Linked DNA regions of Homo sapiens: region 1 is linked to region 2. Evidence: fine-mapped expression QTL. A gene starts in region 2. The other region holds a variant in brackets. All regions are shown on one strand. Distances are between the middles of the regions.

Evidence for each region.
Region 1: its variant is fine-mapped to the expression of B3GALNT2 in fibroblasts (GTEx, PIP above 0.99).

The regions. Positions count from the first base shown.
Region 1 is chr1:235,349,473-235,358,179 of GRCh38, forward strand. No RefSeq gene overlaps it. Among named protein-coding and RNA genes, the nearest start is that of TBCE, 14 kb to the right of the region's middle. The variant A/G (reference allele first, on the strand shown) is at 3,358.
Region 2 is chr1:235,500,119-235,508,825 of GRCh38, forward strand. B3GALNT2 (beta-1,3-N-acetylgalactosaminyltransferase 2) reads right to left here and starts at 4,334. Exons shown (of 12, transcript NM_152490.5): 1 at 4,023-4,334. The coding sequence starts at 4,134. RefSeq lists a silencer at 3,863-4,502 and enhancers at 4,436-5,112, 4,813-4,932.

The sequences.
Region 1 (8,707 bases), 150 kb before region 2:
GCCAGGCATGGTGGTTCACACCTGTAATCCCAGCTACTTGGGAGGCTGAGACACAAGAATCGCTTGAACCTGGGAGGCGGAGGTTGCAGTGAGCCAAGATCATGCCACTGCACTCCAGGCTGGGTGACAGAGCGAGACTCCGTCTCAAAAAAAAAAAAAAAAAAGCAAACAAATGGCCAGACGCAGTGTCTCACACCTGTAATCCCAGCACTTTGGGAGGCCGAGGCAGGTGGATCACCTGAGGTCAGGAATTCGAGACCAGCCTGACTAACATGGAGAAACCCCACCTCTACTAAAAATACAAAATTAGCCGGGCGTGGTGGTGCCTGCCCTGTAATCCCAGCTACTCGGAGGCTGAGGCAGGAGAATCGCTCAAACCCGGGAGGCAGAGGTTGGGGTAAGCTGAGATCTTGCCATTGCACTCCAGCCTGGGCAACAAGAGCGAAACTCTGTCTCAAAAAAAATAGTAAAAATTAGGCCGGGTGCGGTGGCTCACGCTTGTAACCCCAGCACTTTGGGAGGCCGAGGCGGGCGGATCATGAGGTCAGGAGATCGGGACCATCCTGTCTAACACGGTGAAACCCCGTCTCTACTAAAAATACAAAAAATTAGCTGGGCGTGGTGGTGGGCGCTTGTAGTCCCAGCTACTTGGGAGGCTGAGGCAGGAGAATGGCGTGAACTCGGGAGGCAAAGCGTGCAGTGAGCCAAGATGGCGCCACTGCACTCCAGCGTGGGCGACAAAGCAAGACTCCGCTTCAAAAAAAAAAAAAAAAAAGTAAATTAAAATAAATTAAATAAATTAAAATAATTAAAATAAATTAAAATAAATTAAAATAAAATTGTAGCATTGTATAAATGAGTTAGCACTAAAGATAAAATATATACAATTTAAGACAGTATTATAACGATTAAGAAAAAATCTGAGTATAAATTCTGATAGTTCAGAGGAAGGCAAGAGAGGATCCAGCACCGTGAGAATGTCATTAATATTGGGAGAAATTCTCAATTTATTGAGACTGAAAGTCACCTATGAGTATCAATTTAATGAGGAAGTTGGAAGAATTTGATGCAGTTTCCTGTGTCACATCATGGCTCCAATAGGAATATATTATTTAGCTAGTGACTGCTGCAACAAACCAAAGATCACACCAGTAATTCCCAGCTGGCTTGGAATGTCATAGCATATATGGACAATTAATGTTTCCTGACTTACTGGATCTGTTCTTTCAGCCCATCTTGCACACAACTGCCAGATTAATATTACTGCTTTTTATGTTGAATACCTCTGTTCAAAAATCCTTTGTAGGACAAACACCTTAGCTTCACTGTCAAAGCTCTCTATAATCTGCTTCCCGTCTTATCTCCCATCATTCCTTAATAGGGTTTACTTCACCTAACCCTATCTATTCATTCTTAACTAAAGATATCCAGCCAGGTGCAGTGGCTCAAGCCTGTAATCCCAGCATTTTGGGAGGCCGAGGCAGAAAGATCGCTGGAGGCCAGGAATTCAAGACCAACCTAGGCAAAATGAAGAAACCTCATCTCCACAAAAAATAGACATAAAAAAATTAGCCAGTTGCTCCTGCATGTGTCTGTCAGGTGAATCCCTTGAAGTCAGGAGTTCAAGACCACCATGGCCAACATGGCAAAACCCCATCTCTACTAAATATGCAATAATTAGCCGAGTGTGGTGGCACATGCCTGTAGTCCCAGCTACTCAGGAGACTGAGGCAGGAGAATCCCTTGAACCCAGGAGGTGGAGGTTGCAGTGAGCCAAGATGGCGCCACTGCACTCCAGCCTGGGCAACGGAGCGAGACTCTGTCTCAAAAAAAAAAAAAAAAAAAAGATATCCTACAAGTTCTCACATTCATGCCTGTATTCATAATATGTCTGACATGTTTCCCTAGCCACTCATTAAATTTGCTGTATCTCTAACTTAAAGTTGTAATTTCTTGCTGAAGACCTCTCCAAATCAAAATGTCTATAATAAATAACAATGTAACTAAAAGAAACAAACCAATCCCCTTCACCCAGATAGAAAACGAGTAAGAGAATGGCCTTAGCTAAGTATTTCGTAGAGACCTTACAAAGCAAAACTTAAATATGGCCTTTGGTTAACTAATGGCCTTTCAAAGGCTATGACTGACTTAATACAAGGTCTTTTTGTTATGCCTTACAGACCAATTGCACTCTGCTGGTGAGACGCTGACTTCATAGTAAGGCAGCTGGAAAACATCTCTTTAACATGGATTCATGGCAGGATTTTTCCAATTCAAATAATGTACCATGTCCTTTAAAAGAAAAACAATACTCTTGGACCTCTACTGTTGACCTAGTTTTTTTTGTTTTACTAAATATATACTTAATATATAAAAGGTATACTTAATGCATAAAAAGGCATGAACTCTGTAGGTGCTATTAATACCCTTGTTTATTGGCTATTCTCCCATCCTAATTCTTCCTAATCACAGTTTAATTTCCTTTTGGTGAATTACCTCTCCCCAGTTGGGCACAGCCAAAGTAACCCATACAGAAGCCAAGGGGTATCAGGACATTGTTATATCTTTCCTCTCAGTGACCTGTACAGTCAAAGGTTGGATACATGACCTAATCTTGGCCAGTTGGACTGTCTCCAAGGAGATTCTTGAGTGGAGAAAACGCTTCACTTATCTGGCAGCATATGTTGGCCAAATGGTACCTGTTGCTGTGGTTCTTTGTCTCAGTTCTTTGTCTTGAACCTGAACCCGGTTCTCCTGCCCTCCTATTGTACTCTGAACTATCTAAAATCCTACTAATAAGTTAGTCAGGCTGGGCGCAGAGGCTCAAGCCTATAATCCCAGCACTTTGGGAGGCTGAGGCAGGCAGATCACCTGAGGTCGGGAGTTCAAGACCAGTCTGACCAACATGGAGAAACCCTGTCTCTACTAAAAATACAAAATTAGCCAGATATGGTGGCGCATGCCTATAATCCCAGCTACTCGGGAGGCTAGGGCAGGAGAATCACTTGAACCTGGGAGGGGGAGGTTGCAGTGAGCTGAGATCATGCCACTGCACTCCAGCCTGGGCGACAAGAGCAAAACTCTGTCTCAAATAAATAAATAAATAAATAAATAATAAGTTAGCCAGATCTCCCAGCTACATGAAGACAAAAAGAAAGCAAAAGATTCTATAAGAGATTATATAGTAAGTTACTATTTGTGAAAAAAAAAAATAAGGCCAGAAGCGGTGGCTCACGCCTGTAATCCCAGCACTTTGGGAGGCCAAGGTGGGCAAATCACCAGGTCAGGAGTTTGAGACCAGCCTGGCCAACGTGGTGAAACCCCATCTCTACTAAAAATACAAAAAAATAGCCGGGC[A/G]TGGTGGCGCGCGCCTGTAGTCCCAGCTACTTGGGAGGCTGAGGCAGCAGAATTGCTTGAACCCGGGAGGCAGAGGTTGCAGTGAGCCAAGATTGCACCACTGCACTCCAGCCTGAGAAACAGACCAAGACACTGTCTCAAAAAAAACAAAACAAACAAACAAAAAAAACAAAAGAAAGAAAGAAAGAAGGAAGGAAGGAAGGAAGGAAAAAGCCGGGCATGGTGGCTTACGCCTGTAATCCCAGCAATTTGGGAGGCCAAGGCGGGCAGATCACGAGGTCAGGAGTTCGAGACCAGCCTGACCAATATGGTGAAACCATGTCTCTACTAAAAATACAAAAATTAGCCAGGCGTGATGGCTAACACCTGTAATCCCAGCTACTCAGGAGGCTGAGGGAGGAGAATTGCTTGAACCCAGGAGGCAGAGGTTGCAGTGAGCTGAGAATGTGCCACTGCACTCCAGCCTGGGAGACAGAGTAAGATTCCGTCTCAAAAAAAAAAGAAAAATATTTGCACAAAATATCTAGGGGTAGGACCTGGGAGACAGAGGACTAGGAGGTGGGAGGAGCAAGAGAGACTTCTCACTGTATACCTATTTATTACTTTTCATTTTTTGGAAGCATGTGAACATGTCATCTATTCAAATATTGAAATTTAAAAAATAAAGGCACCAGTAAATGAGAAAACCAACAATAAATGCTAAGCAGATAATTTCAAGAGTGGCTACTTACATTGGGTATCCGGGGAAGACCTCTGAGGGAGTAGCATTTAAGCTGAGCTCTGAATGATAAGAAATTAGCTATACCACAATCCTAGTAAAGAACATTTGAAACCAAAGGAATAGCCAACAAAGGTCATAAGGTGGGAAAGAATGGTGCCAATATGTACAAAGCAACATAGGTATTAGATTGTGTAGGAATTTGTAAATCATAGAAAGGACTTTAGGTTGGGTTTTTTTTTTTTTTTTTTTTTTTTTTTTTTTTTTTTGAGATGAAGTCTCGCTCTTGTCCCCCAGGCTGGAGTGCAGTGGCGCGATCTCGGCTCACTGCGACCTCTGCCTCCCGGGTTCAAGCGATTCTCCTGCCTCAGCCTCCCGAGTAGCTGGGATTACAGGCACCTGCCACCACACCCGGCTACTTTTTATATTTTTAGTAGAGACGGGTTTTCACTATATTGGCTAGGCTGGTCTCAAACTCCTGACCCCAGGTGATCCACCTCCCTCGGCCTCCCGAAGCGCTGGGATTACAGGCATGAGCCACTGCGCCCAGCCAGACTTTAGGTTTTAAAACTAACTGCAACTTGAAGCCGATGGATGGTTTTAAGAAAATGAGTAAGGCCAGGTGCCGTGGCTCACGCCTGTAATCCCAGCACTTTGGGAGGCCAAGGTGGGTGGACCACCTGAGGTCATGAGTTTGACACCTGAGGTCATGAGTTCGAGACCAGCATGACCAACATAGTGAAACCTCATCCCTACTAAAAATACAAAATTAGCTGGCCGTGGTAGCACATGCCTGTAATCCCAGAAACTTGGGAGGCTGAGGCAGGAGAATCACTTGAACCCAGGAGGCAGAGGTTGCAGTGAGGGAAGATTGTGCCATTGCACTCCAGCCTGGGCAATAAGAGTGAAACTCCATCTCAAAAAAGAAAAAAAAAAAGAAGAAGGGGAGTAAAGGCCAGGCGCAGTGGCTCACACCTGTAATTCCAGCACTTTGGGAGGCTGAGGCAGGCGGATCATGAGGTCAGGAGTTCGAGACCAGCCTGGCTAACATGGTGAAACCCTGTCTCTACTAAAAATACAAAAAATTATCCAGGTGTGGTGGTGTGCGCCTGTAATCCCAGCTACTCGGGAGGCTGAGGCAGGAGAATTGCTTGAACCCAGGAGGCGGAAGTTGCAGTGAGCTAAGATTGCGCCATTGTACTCCAGCCTGGGTGACAGAGCAAGACTCTGTCAAAAAAAAAAAAAAAAAAAGAAAGAAAGAAAGAAAAGAAGAGAGAAAAGAAAAGAAAAAAGAAGGGGAGTAACTAGATCTGAATTACCTTTATAAAAGATCATCCTGGCATCTGAGTGGATGATGGACTACAGAGAGTCAGAAGAGGAGGTAAGGAAACCAATTAGGAGGGTGTTTGAGTGTCCAGTGAGAGATGGTGGTAGCAGAGAACATGGTATGAAGTAGTTGAATTGGGGATTATTTAGAAAGTGGAGTTTATATGAATTACTGGTGGATAGGATGTAGAGTTAATGGAAAGAGGAGTCAAGGATGGTCTTTAGATTTTTTATAAGAAACTGAGTAGATGGTGATAAATCATAAATCAGACTTAGGAAGACAGGGAAAGGGTAGGTATTAGGGGGAAATTAGAGCTGCCTATCAAGCATCCAGGAGGAAATGTCACTGCATGCACAGGCTAGATTCAGGGGAGATTCAAGCAAGGCTGAAGTTAGATTTGTGGATCATTGGTGATCACTTAAGCCCAGGATTGGATAGGTTACCTAGAGATATTGTGTAAGAAAGAAAAGAAGGGGCCTCAGCACTGATCCTGGCATGCCACGTATAGGAGTATTTTTTTCTTTTCTTTTTTGAGATGGAGTTTCGCTCTTGTTGCCCAGGCTGGATTGCAATGGCACGATCTCAGCTCACCACAACCACCGCCTCCCGGGTTCAAGCAATTCTCCTGCCTCAGACTCCTGAGTAGCTGGGATTACAGGCATGTGCCACCATGCCCGGCTAATTTTTTGTATTTTTAGTAGAGACAGGGTTTCTCCATGTTATCAGGCTGGTCTCGAACTCCTGACCTCAGGTGATCCACCGGCCTCAGCCTCCGAAAGTGCTGGGAATACAGGCGTGAGACCCTGCGCCCAGGTTTTCTTTTTTTTTTTGAAACAGCTTTGCCAAGGCAAGATGGCTCCCATGCTGGTAATTCCAGCACTTTGGGATGCCAAAGAGGGAAGGATAGCTTGAGCCCAGGAGTTCAAGACCAGACCGGGCAACATAGTGAGACCTTGTCTCTAAATAAATAAATAAAAGCCAGGCATAATGATGCACACCTGTGGTCCCAGCTACTTGAAGGCCAAAGCGGGAAGATTGCTTGAGGTCAGGAGATGGAGACCACCCTGGGCAATATAGTGAGACCTTGTCTCTACAAAAAAAATTTAAAAATTAGCCAAGCGTGATGGCAAGTGCCTATAGTCCCAGCTACTCGGGAGGCTGAGGTGGAAAGATTGCTTGAGCCCAGGAGGTTGACGTTGCAGTGAGCCAAAATTACAACACTGCATTCCAGCCTGGGCAACAGGGCAAGACACTGGCTCCAGAAAAAAAAAAAAAAAAAAAAAAGGTTGGATCTGCTGGCTCACACTTGTAATCCCAGCATTTTGGGAGGCCGAGGCGGGTAGATCACCTGAGGTCAGGAGTTTGAGACCAAAAAATAATAATAATGATAAATAAATAAATAAATAAAAGAAAAAAACAGACAAACAAAGAGTTCAAGACTAGCCTGGCCAACATGGTGACATGGTAAAACCCTGTCTCTACTAAAAATACAAAAGTTAGCCAGGGGCTGGGCACAGTAGCTCATGCCTGTAATTCTAGCACTTTGAGAGGCTGAGGTGGGTGAACCACTTGAGGTCAGGAGTTTGAGACCAGCCTGGCCAACATGGTGAAACCCCACCTCTACTAAAAATACAAAAATTAGTCAGGTGTGGTGGTGCATGCCTGTAGTCCCAGCTATTTGGGAGGCTGAGGCAGGGGAATTACTTGAACCCAGGAGGTGGAGGTTACAGTGAGCCAAGATCGAGCCACTGCACCCCAGCCTGGGCTACGGAGCGAGACTCCATCTCAAAAAAAAAAAAAAAAAGTTAGCCAAGCGTGGTGGCACACACCTGTAATCCCAGCTATTCAGGAGGCTGAGGCACAAGAATGGCTTGAACCCAGGAGGTGAAGGTTGCAGTGAGCCAAGATCGTACCACTGCACTCCTGCCCGGGCAACAGAGCGAGACTGTCTCAAAAATAAATAATTAAATAAATAAACCTGCCAATAGCTTCTATGACCCAAAGATGAGATGCCCCTGGCCACCTCTAAAATCTCCTACAAGCTGATGTAACTATGAGAATTAAAGAGGACCCAAAACTGACTGAGATCAAATTTTCTGCTAGTCTTGCAAGATGGAGGTAGAGGAAGAATATACATTCTCTTCAGGATGCTGGACTGAGCGTGTGTTATTTTTTTCTCCCTTTTCAGAGAACACTAAAAGGAAAGTAAAAGAATAAAAAGGTTAATACAGCAAAATATAATTGAGAATGGGAAGGGCTAATTATGATCCATGTTAGTGAGTAAGAAATTTCAGGAAATTTCTTGGCCAGGCATGGTGGCTTATGCTTGTAAAACCAGCACTTTGAGAGGCTTAGGCAGGCAGATCACTTGAGGTCAGGAGTTTGAAACCAGCCTGGCCAACATGGCAAAACCTCTACTAAAAATGCAAGAAGTAGCCAGGCGTGGCGGTGCACACCTGTAATCCCAGCTACTAGGGAGGCTGAGGCGGGAGAATCGCTGGAACCTGGGAAGCCGAGGTTGCAGTGAGCCAAAATTGTGCCACTGCACTCTTGCCTGTGCGACAGAGCAAGACTCTGTCTCACAAAAAGAAAAAAAGAAGAAGAAGAAGAGAGACTAAAATGCAGAGACTGCAAGACTGCCCTTCAAAATGGAAGAGAGAGGCAGAATTGAGTTCTCTGCTTCAGAGTCACAGGCTGCAATCCAGGTGTCAGCCAGGTCTGGGTTCTCCTCAGAGGCTCTAGCAGGGAAGGATCCAATTTCAGGCTCCCTCGGCTTGGTAGAATTCATTTGCTTTCAGCTGTAGGATTCACAGTAGATTGCTTCCTCGAAGCCAGGAAGAAAGACAGAGACCCACACAGAGAGACAGGCAGGCTCTAGTGTCAGGCAGCTAACAAGACAGTCTTATAAAAATGTAATCATAGGAATGACATCCCATTATTTTTATCATTGTCTATTGGTTAAAAGCAAGTCACAGACCCTGCCCACACTCAAGGAAAGGGGATTAGGGAATTATACGGGGCTGAATACCCGGAGGCAGGGGTCACAGGGCCACCTTAAAGTCTGTCTCAAGTGGGTATTGTTTTGTTTTGTTTCATTTTGGCATTGGTAAGGAAGAGGGTATCAAAAGGTAGGGGCAGCTGCCTGTACATTGGATGAAAATATGCTGAAATTGATGGGGGCGAGTCCAGTCTAACCCCACCCCAACTCTGACTTCAGTCATGCCAAAGAAAGAGATATGGAGATTGGAGCTATTTCCTCACCATTTTATAACTTAACTGCCTGCAGAGTACTCTGTAGATCTAAT
Region 2 (8,707 bases):
TTCTTAATATGTAATATATCCTGAGAGTCTGGCAACCTGCTCAACCCTGCACTGTGAGTGGACATCCAAAGGTATATTAAAGTCTAAGGGAGGGCCTGGCGCAGTGGCTCATGCCTGTAATCCTAGCACTTTGGGAGGCCGAGGTGAATGAATCGCTTGAGGTCAGGAGTTCGAGACCAGCCTGGCCAACATGGCAAAACGCAGTCTCTACTAATAATACAAAAATTAGCTGGGTGTGGTGGCACACACATGTAACAGAGGCTGAGGCAGGAGAATGGCTTCAACCCGGAGGCAGAGGTTGCAGTTAGTCAAGATGGTGCCACTGCACTCCAGCCTGGGCGACAGAGTGAAACTGTGCCTCAAAATAATAATCAAAAAAGTCTAAAGAAGGTTGACATCAAAATTGATTGCTCAAAATAAGCCCAAGAGTCTTAAAAATCACACCAAAATTCCACTCTGATATGCATGCTCTTGGAAGAGTCACAAATAGATACAAATCTTGAAAATGAAGAAAACATGTGAGCCTGTCACAGATCTAATGATAAAGACAATCATCATACACACTACCAAAGACACCTCCCAAAACACCACACTAGCACAGGCATCAGCGGCCACCAGACTACCACTCCTCTCTCAAACTCATGGAGTGTTTACTATGAAACAGGCACTGTTGCGGGTGTTTCATTAATTGAATCTTCACAATAAGTCTATGAGATCATCATCTTATAAATAAGGAAACTGAAGCACAGAGACACAATTAGCATATAGGGATAATTTTGGAAGAACTCACCCCAGGCAAAATTACAAAGCAAGCTCAATTTGTTTTCTGACCTTCTACTTGCTCTACATCTGTTTCCATTAGATACTGTGAGCACCTTGGGAGAAGGGACTAGGCATCCAGCACAGAATCTAACACTCAAGTACTTGTTGAGTGAATATGCTCCTTTGTTTTGGTTTCTTTCTTTCCAGATACCCTAGAAAGCGAAGCCTTCTTTTGTCACATCATTTTTCTAAATTAACCGTTAAATAATTCCTACTTAAGGCATTACCCAAAACGAGCATTTTGTAATCAAGATATCCTATGTTTAGATTCCTTAGTCCGATGGTTATCTCCACCTGCATTTTCCTCTGTCACCCTCAGGTGTACTGGATTTCACTTCCTCTTTACCAGTTGCTTTCCCTGACTGGTTTAAGGGAACCTATCACATTAAAAAAGTTGCTGACTCTGGTACTAAGGTGACTCACTTACTTCATTCTGGTCCCTGCTCAACTGTTACCTCTTCAGAATGGAATGGACTTCCCTGACCTATTTAAAACCATCTCTTTAATCTCTTAACACTGCTTTATCTTTTTTCCCTATACTTATCACTACCGCTGTGATATTTATAATTATTTCCTGATGCTCTGTCTTCCCTTCTAAATTGTAAACTACATGAGGGCAGGAAGTTTAGCTTGATTACTGCTGTAATTCCACACCTACGATAGGAGCTGGCACAGAGTAGGCTCTCAAATATTTGCTGAATCAACTGCGAGCCAAAGAACCTTTTTTAATATTCAGGGAAGGTAAATCGCTCTTTCAAAAAAAACAAAGAAACTGCCATTACTTAATGAGACTGAAGACAGACAAAGCAGCAGAAGAGAAAAAAAAATACATTTAAAAATGTTAATTCAAGAAAAGAATACTTAGCAAAATCTTGGGTTTTTTTTTCTCCTGTTAGGCTTAAAGTACAAGGGTTAAAATGTAAAAACACCCAACTATTTTAGTTTCAACATGGTGACAGCACAATGGTAAAGGAATTATGGGAAATTTTAGCATTTAAGATGCTTCCACTGCTTTTAGCTTTGAAAGTACCAAAAGGAAAAAAGGAAAGGTAGGAGTCAGTCTTGTTTAATTAATTAATTAATTATTTTGAGATGGACTTTCGCTCTTGTCACCCAGGCTGGAGTGCAGTGGCGCAATCTCGTCTCACTGCAACCTCCGCCTCCGAGGTTCAAGTGATTCTCCTGCCTCAGCCTCCTTAGTAGCTGGGATTACAGGCATGCACCACTATGCCCGGCTAATTTTTGTATTTTTAGTAGAGACGGGGTTTCGCCATGTTGGCCAGGCTGGTCTTGAACTCCTGACCTCAGGTGATCCACCCACCACGGCCTCCCAAAGTGTTGGGATTACAGGCGTGAGGCACCGCGCCGGGCCAGTCATGTTTAACTTAGATTATTAAAATATCGATGGTTGACAGCTGCAGCAAACCACCATGGCACACGTTTACCTATGTAACAAACTTGCACGTCCTGCACACGTATCCCGGAACTTAAAAAAAAATCCCATTTATTATCTGACCAGATACACAGTACTCATTCAAAGCCAAAGTTAATTAACATAACTAGTATTGATCTTCTTACCTACGTTATTACCCTGTTCCTTTCTATGGTCTACTTCTTCATTTCCTTAATCTAGCCTGGTCTAACTACTGGATGGCAGATAAAGGCATCATCCTTCAAGTGCAGTAAGGGAGTAGGAAAAACTTGTCTCAAACTAGAAAACTGCCTAGCAAGTCTACTAAGATTTCAGTTTGAAGTCTACTAACATTTCAGTTTTTGTTTGTTTTACTGAACCCTAAACAACCATTAAGGCCATAAACAGACTTAATGACGCTCTACAAGGAGATTCCAGCAGGGCTCACTCATAACAAAAGAGAGAAACCTGTAACACACAAGCAGCTGTTACAAAGCATTTTTTATATATGGCGTTCTCTTCTTAGTTCACTTCACAAAAACCTAAAAAACACTGAGCAAAACCCTGACCCCATCAACTGGTTAAGTGCATAGCAACACTGTACTTTCATTAAATCACTTAAATAGTGTTTAATTCTATTCAGGTCACACAAATCCTTTTCAAAGAGCTAGTGATCTAATAGGAAAAGAGATTGTTACCAAAATAACCTCAACATAATTTCATATAACTGAGACTGTTTTGAGGATTGCCGAATACTTTCTACTTATAAGGCATAGAGTGCTGAACTGCAAACACTCAATTCTAATTTTAAGAACTTTTGGATTAGAAAACAGCTGTTTTGGGGAGAGATGGTAAGGGAAAAAAGTCCCAGTATAGTTACAAAATTAAGTATTACATAATATTTAAAAGAGCTTTCTAGGTTTCTTTCATGTTCTAGGGCAAGCCCTTAAAGAAGAAGACAAGAGATACAGGGAAAGCTAAAGTAGTGTTCAGGGTGGTGGAACCCACTAACAAAACAATCCGCTGGGCACCGTAAGTAAAGCATTCTATTAGGCTGTGACGCGAAACAAGAACAAAGGTTTCATTCCTACGAGAGATTAAGTTTTAGAGCAAATGGACACGATCGTTAAAGAATTTGATATTTCCATGTAAACTGCATTAGCAGGTTATGCGATCCAAACTCACAGGAACAACTCCAACTCTCGGCCATGCCCTATTTCATGTCTAGATTTGTTTAACCGACTTACATCATAATCCAAGAATACGAACTACAGTATATTCTTACAGCAAAGTTATTCCTTAAAAGCAAAACCGAGCCACCTTTGAAAACACGCACACACATTATCCACGGCACTAAAACCCCAGTCTTGACCGAGAAAGACCAACAACTTGGGGGGGAAGAAAACAACTTCAGAGCCAGAGCTCCCAAAGCAGAAAGCGCTGGCGGCTGAAGGGCACACGAGGTTCCGCTCCCGGGCGAACGGGCGGCGTCGGACATCACTAACCAGGCCTGGGGACAGGCGAAGGACTTGCAACTGCGGGCGCCGGCTCTGCGGGCGTTAAGGGAAACGGGGAAGTGAGAAGAGGCGGGGACACGAAAAGAGAAAAGCTCCCTCAAGTTTGCCCGATGTTAACGCTCCAAGGATGAAAAGAGCCGTTTGTTTCGTCTGGGGACCGTCGCGTTTGGCCCTTCCCCCGCCTCCAACAATTCCCGGCGAAGCCCCGCGGCACCAAGCCGGGCCTCCCACCCCCCCGGCGGCCGCCAACCCGCCCGGCCCCAGGACCTCACCTGCAGGGCCGGCCCCGGAGGCGCAGGCGGGCGGCGGGGAGCGCAGCCGCAGCCAGAGGTGCAGCGCGGCCCCGAGCACACACGGGCACAGCAGCACCAGCCAGTTTCGCATTGGCCGCCCCCGCCGCGAGCCGGGCTCTCCCGCGTCCCGGCGGAGAGGGAGGGGACCTGCAAGTGCGGAGACTGAGGGGCGGCGGCTGACGAGCGACCACTCCGAGCACGCCCGCCCTCGCGCTCGGCGACGTCTGGGGGGCTCCTCGCAGCTCCCGGCCCCGCTCCTCCGGTCCCTCAGACCGCGGGTGGCCGCGGCTTAGCCGGCCGAAGCCCCGCCCCCTCCGCCTGGCCTTCCCACCGGCTCCGCCCACCTTTTCTCCCACTCGCCCCGCCCTCTCCTCCCGCGTTTCCACACGCGCCAGCCAGCCGGCCGGGAGCTGAAGTCCCGCTCTGGGCCCAGGCAGGGGGCGCCCGCGGTTTAGAAACCACATTTCCCATGAGCCTAAGCACGCGCTTCCGTCACTCGGCGGCCGCGGGGGCGAAGGGCGAGGCCCCACACAGAGCATGCGCATCCCCCTTGACGTTTGCTGCCACCCCACGGCCCAGGGGAGGTAGTGCCGGAGACCCGGTGCTCGGAGGCTGCCCGGAGCCGCGAAGGGAAATGCGCTTTGCCTCAGATTTGAAGGAAATCCGAGTGGCTCTTGTGTGAAATCACGCAGAGCTCCTTTGTTCCGCGTGCTCTCTTGCTCGACTGCTGTGGGAGGTGGGATCCTGCTGACGTCTCCTTGGCCCGTAGAGTGGGGCGAGGAAGCCCGAGTGTCCGCGCCTGGAGCGGTGACTCATCAGGGATTAGCTCTGGTGCCGTGGGTTCCCGGCTCTTTGCCCGGTTCTGTGCTCTGGGAACGCAGGGTGACAGACAGCGAGCTGGGGACTAGGCTGTGGAACACGATGATGACGAGCCAATCAGGGTAGAACTGCACGTGCTCCGGGTTCATACTGGAGCTGGGAGCGAAACGGGAGCCGGGCGAGCTGGGAGAACGTGGGCTCCGGGGACCTGGGGAAGGGTGGCCGCAGCGAGCCTTCCAGGGAGAACGCCGGCCCCGCGTCTTGAGGCTTTGCCCCGGGTGGGAGCCCTCCTGGCCCACCAGGCCCGCGCCGAGGCAGCCGGAAAGCGGGGACGGGGCGGTGAAGGCACTGGGGTGAGGATGGGAGAGAAGGATGAGAACGAGCGGCTGGGCTATGGGGCGGTTTTTGTTTCTGCTTTTGTTTTTGAGACGGAGTCTCACTCTGTCACCCAAGCTGTAGTGCAATGGCGCGATCTCGGCTCGCTGCAACCTCCGCCTCCTGGGTTCAAGCGATTCTCCTGCCTCAGCCTCCTGAGTGGCTGGGATTACAGGCGCCCGCCACTGCGCCCAGCTAATTTTTGTATTTTTTTTGTAGAGACGAGGTTTCGCCATGTTGGCCAGGCTGGTCTCCAGCTCCTGACCTCAGGTGATCCGCCCGCCTCGGCCTCCCAAAATGCTTGGATTACAGGCGTGAGCCACCGCGCTCGGCCGCGGTTTTTTTTTTTTTTTTTTTAAGTTTCCACAAGTGTGGAAACAGAAGGTGACTGTATTATTGAAAAAAAGTCTTGGATGACAGAAGACCCAACTCAAACAGGCTTAAGGGAAAAAAGTACTTTGGCTCGCCGTGGCTCATGCGTGTAATCCCAGCACTTTGGGAGGCCGAGGTGGGCGGATCACTTGAGGGCAGGAGTTCGAGACTAGCCTGGGTAACATGGTGAAACCCTGTCTCTACTAAAAATACAAAAATTAGTCTGGCGTAGTGGTGGGCACCTGTAGTCCCAGCTACTCAGGAGGCTGAGGCAGGAGGATCGCTTGAACCCAGGAGGCGGAGGTTGCAGTGAGCCGAGATCGCGCCATTGCACTCCAGCCTGGGTGACAGAACGAGACTCTGTCTCAAAAACAAACAAACAAACAAAAAAAAAATAAAAAGAAAAGGCAAGAAAGTAATAATTGGTTGCCAGAAAAAGTATACTATTTTTATCCTCAGGAAAGGTAGTAAATGGCCTCTGTTGATATTGTAAAATTTTCATTTTGTGAATTAGAATGAGTTATCCTAAAAAGAGGACTAATCCCTCATTTCAGCAGAGCTAGTCATTCGACAAATACTTATTGAGTGTCTATTATGTACCAGACACTTTTGTAGGTACTTTAGATACACCAGTGAACAAAATAAAGATCCCTATCCTGTGTTGATGGGGAGTAGGGCGCAGACTATAGACATAATAAAGAAATATACTCAACCAGCATGTTAGAAGGTTATTCCTGCTCTGGAAAATATAACAATTAGGGCCGGGTAGGGGAATTGTGAGTGTGGGATTGAAATGACACAGATTGCAGTATCAACTAGCAGTATTTAAACAACTGTTCAAAGTTACAATGAGCACTAAAGGGAAGAATAAACATAAGTCATCCGAATATATTAAATAATCAAGGTGTTGTTTCACTTAACAACCTAGAGGGGAAGTTTTTCACTGGCTCTCTGACAAGCTTGTAACAAAAATAGTTTTGAATAACTTTGTAACATCCTTCAAATCACATCAGAGTGGGAGCTGTCTATAGTACTTGTTCATAGGACCAGTGACCTTTCCACTTACCTGTTTTCTACTGTCCCCTAATAATCTCATGACTAAAGTGAGTGAAGATTGCAAGACAGTAATTCCTGTAATCCCAGCACTTTAGGAGGCTGAGGTGGGAGGATCACTTGAGTCCAGGAGTTCAAGACCAGCCTGGGCAACATAGCAAGACCTCGTCTCTACAAAAAATTAACAATTAGCTGGGCATGGTGGTATACGCCTATAGTTCCAGCTACTCGGGAGGCTGAGGCAGGATGATCACTTAAGCCCCAGAGTTCAAGGTTAGAGTGAGCTATGATCACACCACAGGACTCAGTCTGGGTGACAGAGTGGGACCTTGTTTCTAAAAAAAAAAAAAAAAGGTAAAAGTGACAGTATGTGTAATGGAAAGAATAAAAAAACTCAGTAGTGATATAAACAGTCTGTGCACTCAAGGGGCTCATAGGGTAAGTAGGAACAAGTTAACAGAATTAGAATTAGGGAGAGACAAACTAGGGTGGTTGGTAACCATGATGGCAATTCAATGTGATAAGTGCTCTGAGAAAGGAATGCACAGGATGTTAGAGCAGCACAAAGCAGGGGGTACAGCTGTCTCTACTCATGGGGGATTGGTTCTGGACCTTCTATGGATACCAAAATTCATGGATGCTCAAGTCCCTTATATAAAATGGTATAATATTTGCATATAACATACACACATCCTCTCATATACGCGAAATCATCTCTAAATTACTTATAACACCTAATATGATGTCTACGCATCACTTCATTCACGTGGATTCAATGGCATGCGCAAATTCAAGTTTGCTTTTTTCCTGAATTTGAGGTTGGTTGAATTCATAGATGCAGTACCCAGGGATATGGAGGGCCAACTATATTTAACTCTACTCAAGGGTCCCCAGAGGAGGCTATCTCTTGAAAATACAGGGCCGGGGCTTGAAGTCAAAGTGGCCAGTTAACAGGGCCAGAAAGTAGGAAGGACATTCAAGAGCACTGTAGGCAAAAAAATAAAAAATAAAATAAATAAACCTGAGCTAGTGATGACACGGCAATTAGGGAAATGTAAGCAATTGGTATGACCTTAGTGCAAGTTAGGAACACGGCAATGATGAGAAGGTGAACAGAAGGCAGAGGCCAGGTTGTAATCATAAACTTTGCTAAGGAATTTGGACTTTATTGTGAAGGCTCTAAAGAAGAATTTTTTTTTCTGATTACCAATGTAATACATGATTATGAAAAGGATCTTGGAAAACAGAAGAATATAAGAAATCATACTACATACAATTCATACATTTTTTAAAAGTTTTTTCATTAAAAAAATTTGCCATTCATACTGTAAGTTAGAATTTATATCCAACTATTTTCACCTAACCTATAAGCCTTCCCATATTTAATTAGTAGTCTCAGAAAATATAACTTAATCATTTGTCCACACTATAATTTCTTATCTGGTCCCGTATTATTGGACATACAGGTTGTTTCCATTATTCCACTATAATAAGTAATACTGGCACTTCTGTGCACAAAACTTTTTCCACATTTCAGATAATTTCCTTTTCTGATATTATTTTTAAGCCGCTTTATTCATACTGCTATTGTTTCAATGTGTATGTCTGCCTTCAATATGTTTCTCTTATCTCACCCTCATATTTTAAAAAAGTTCTTTATTAATTCAAAGGACAAAACTTTTCATCAATGAGATTGAATATTCTTATGTTCGTTAGCTGTTTCTATTTCTTTTGTTAATTAGTCATGTATCTTCCTTTTATCCATTTGTATAAGCCCTTTATTTTTCCTCAGTTTTCTTGCCTTCTAATTTTATAACTTTTAGGACACAAAAACACTTTAAATTTTTATAAATTCAAATGATCAATATTTAATTTTTTTCCATATTTTAGGATGATTCTGATCGTGAGATCTGGTCAATATTCTTGTTTGTTTTATTTAATGTTTTAATCCATTTGGAATTTATTTAGGAATATGGTGTAATGCAAGGATCTCAAAATTAATTAATTTTTTTCATATAGCTAACTATTGTCCTGGCCCATTATTT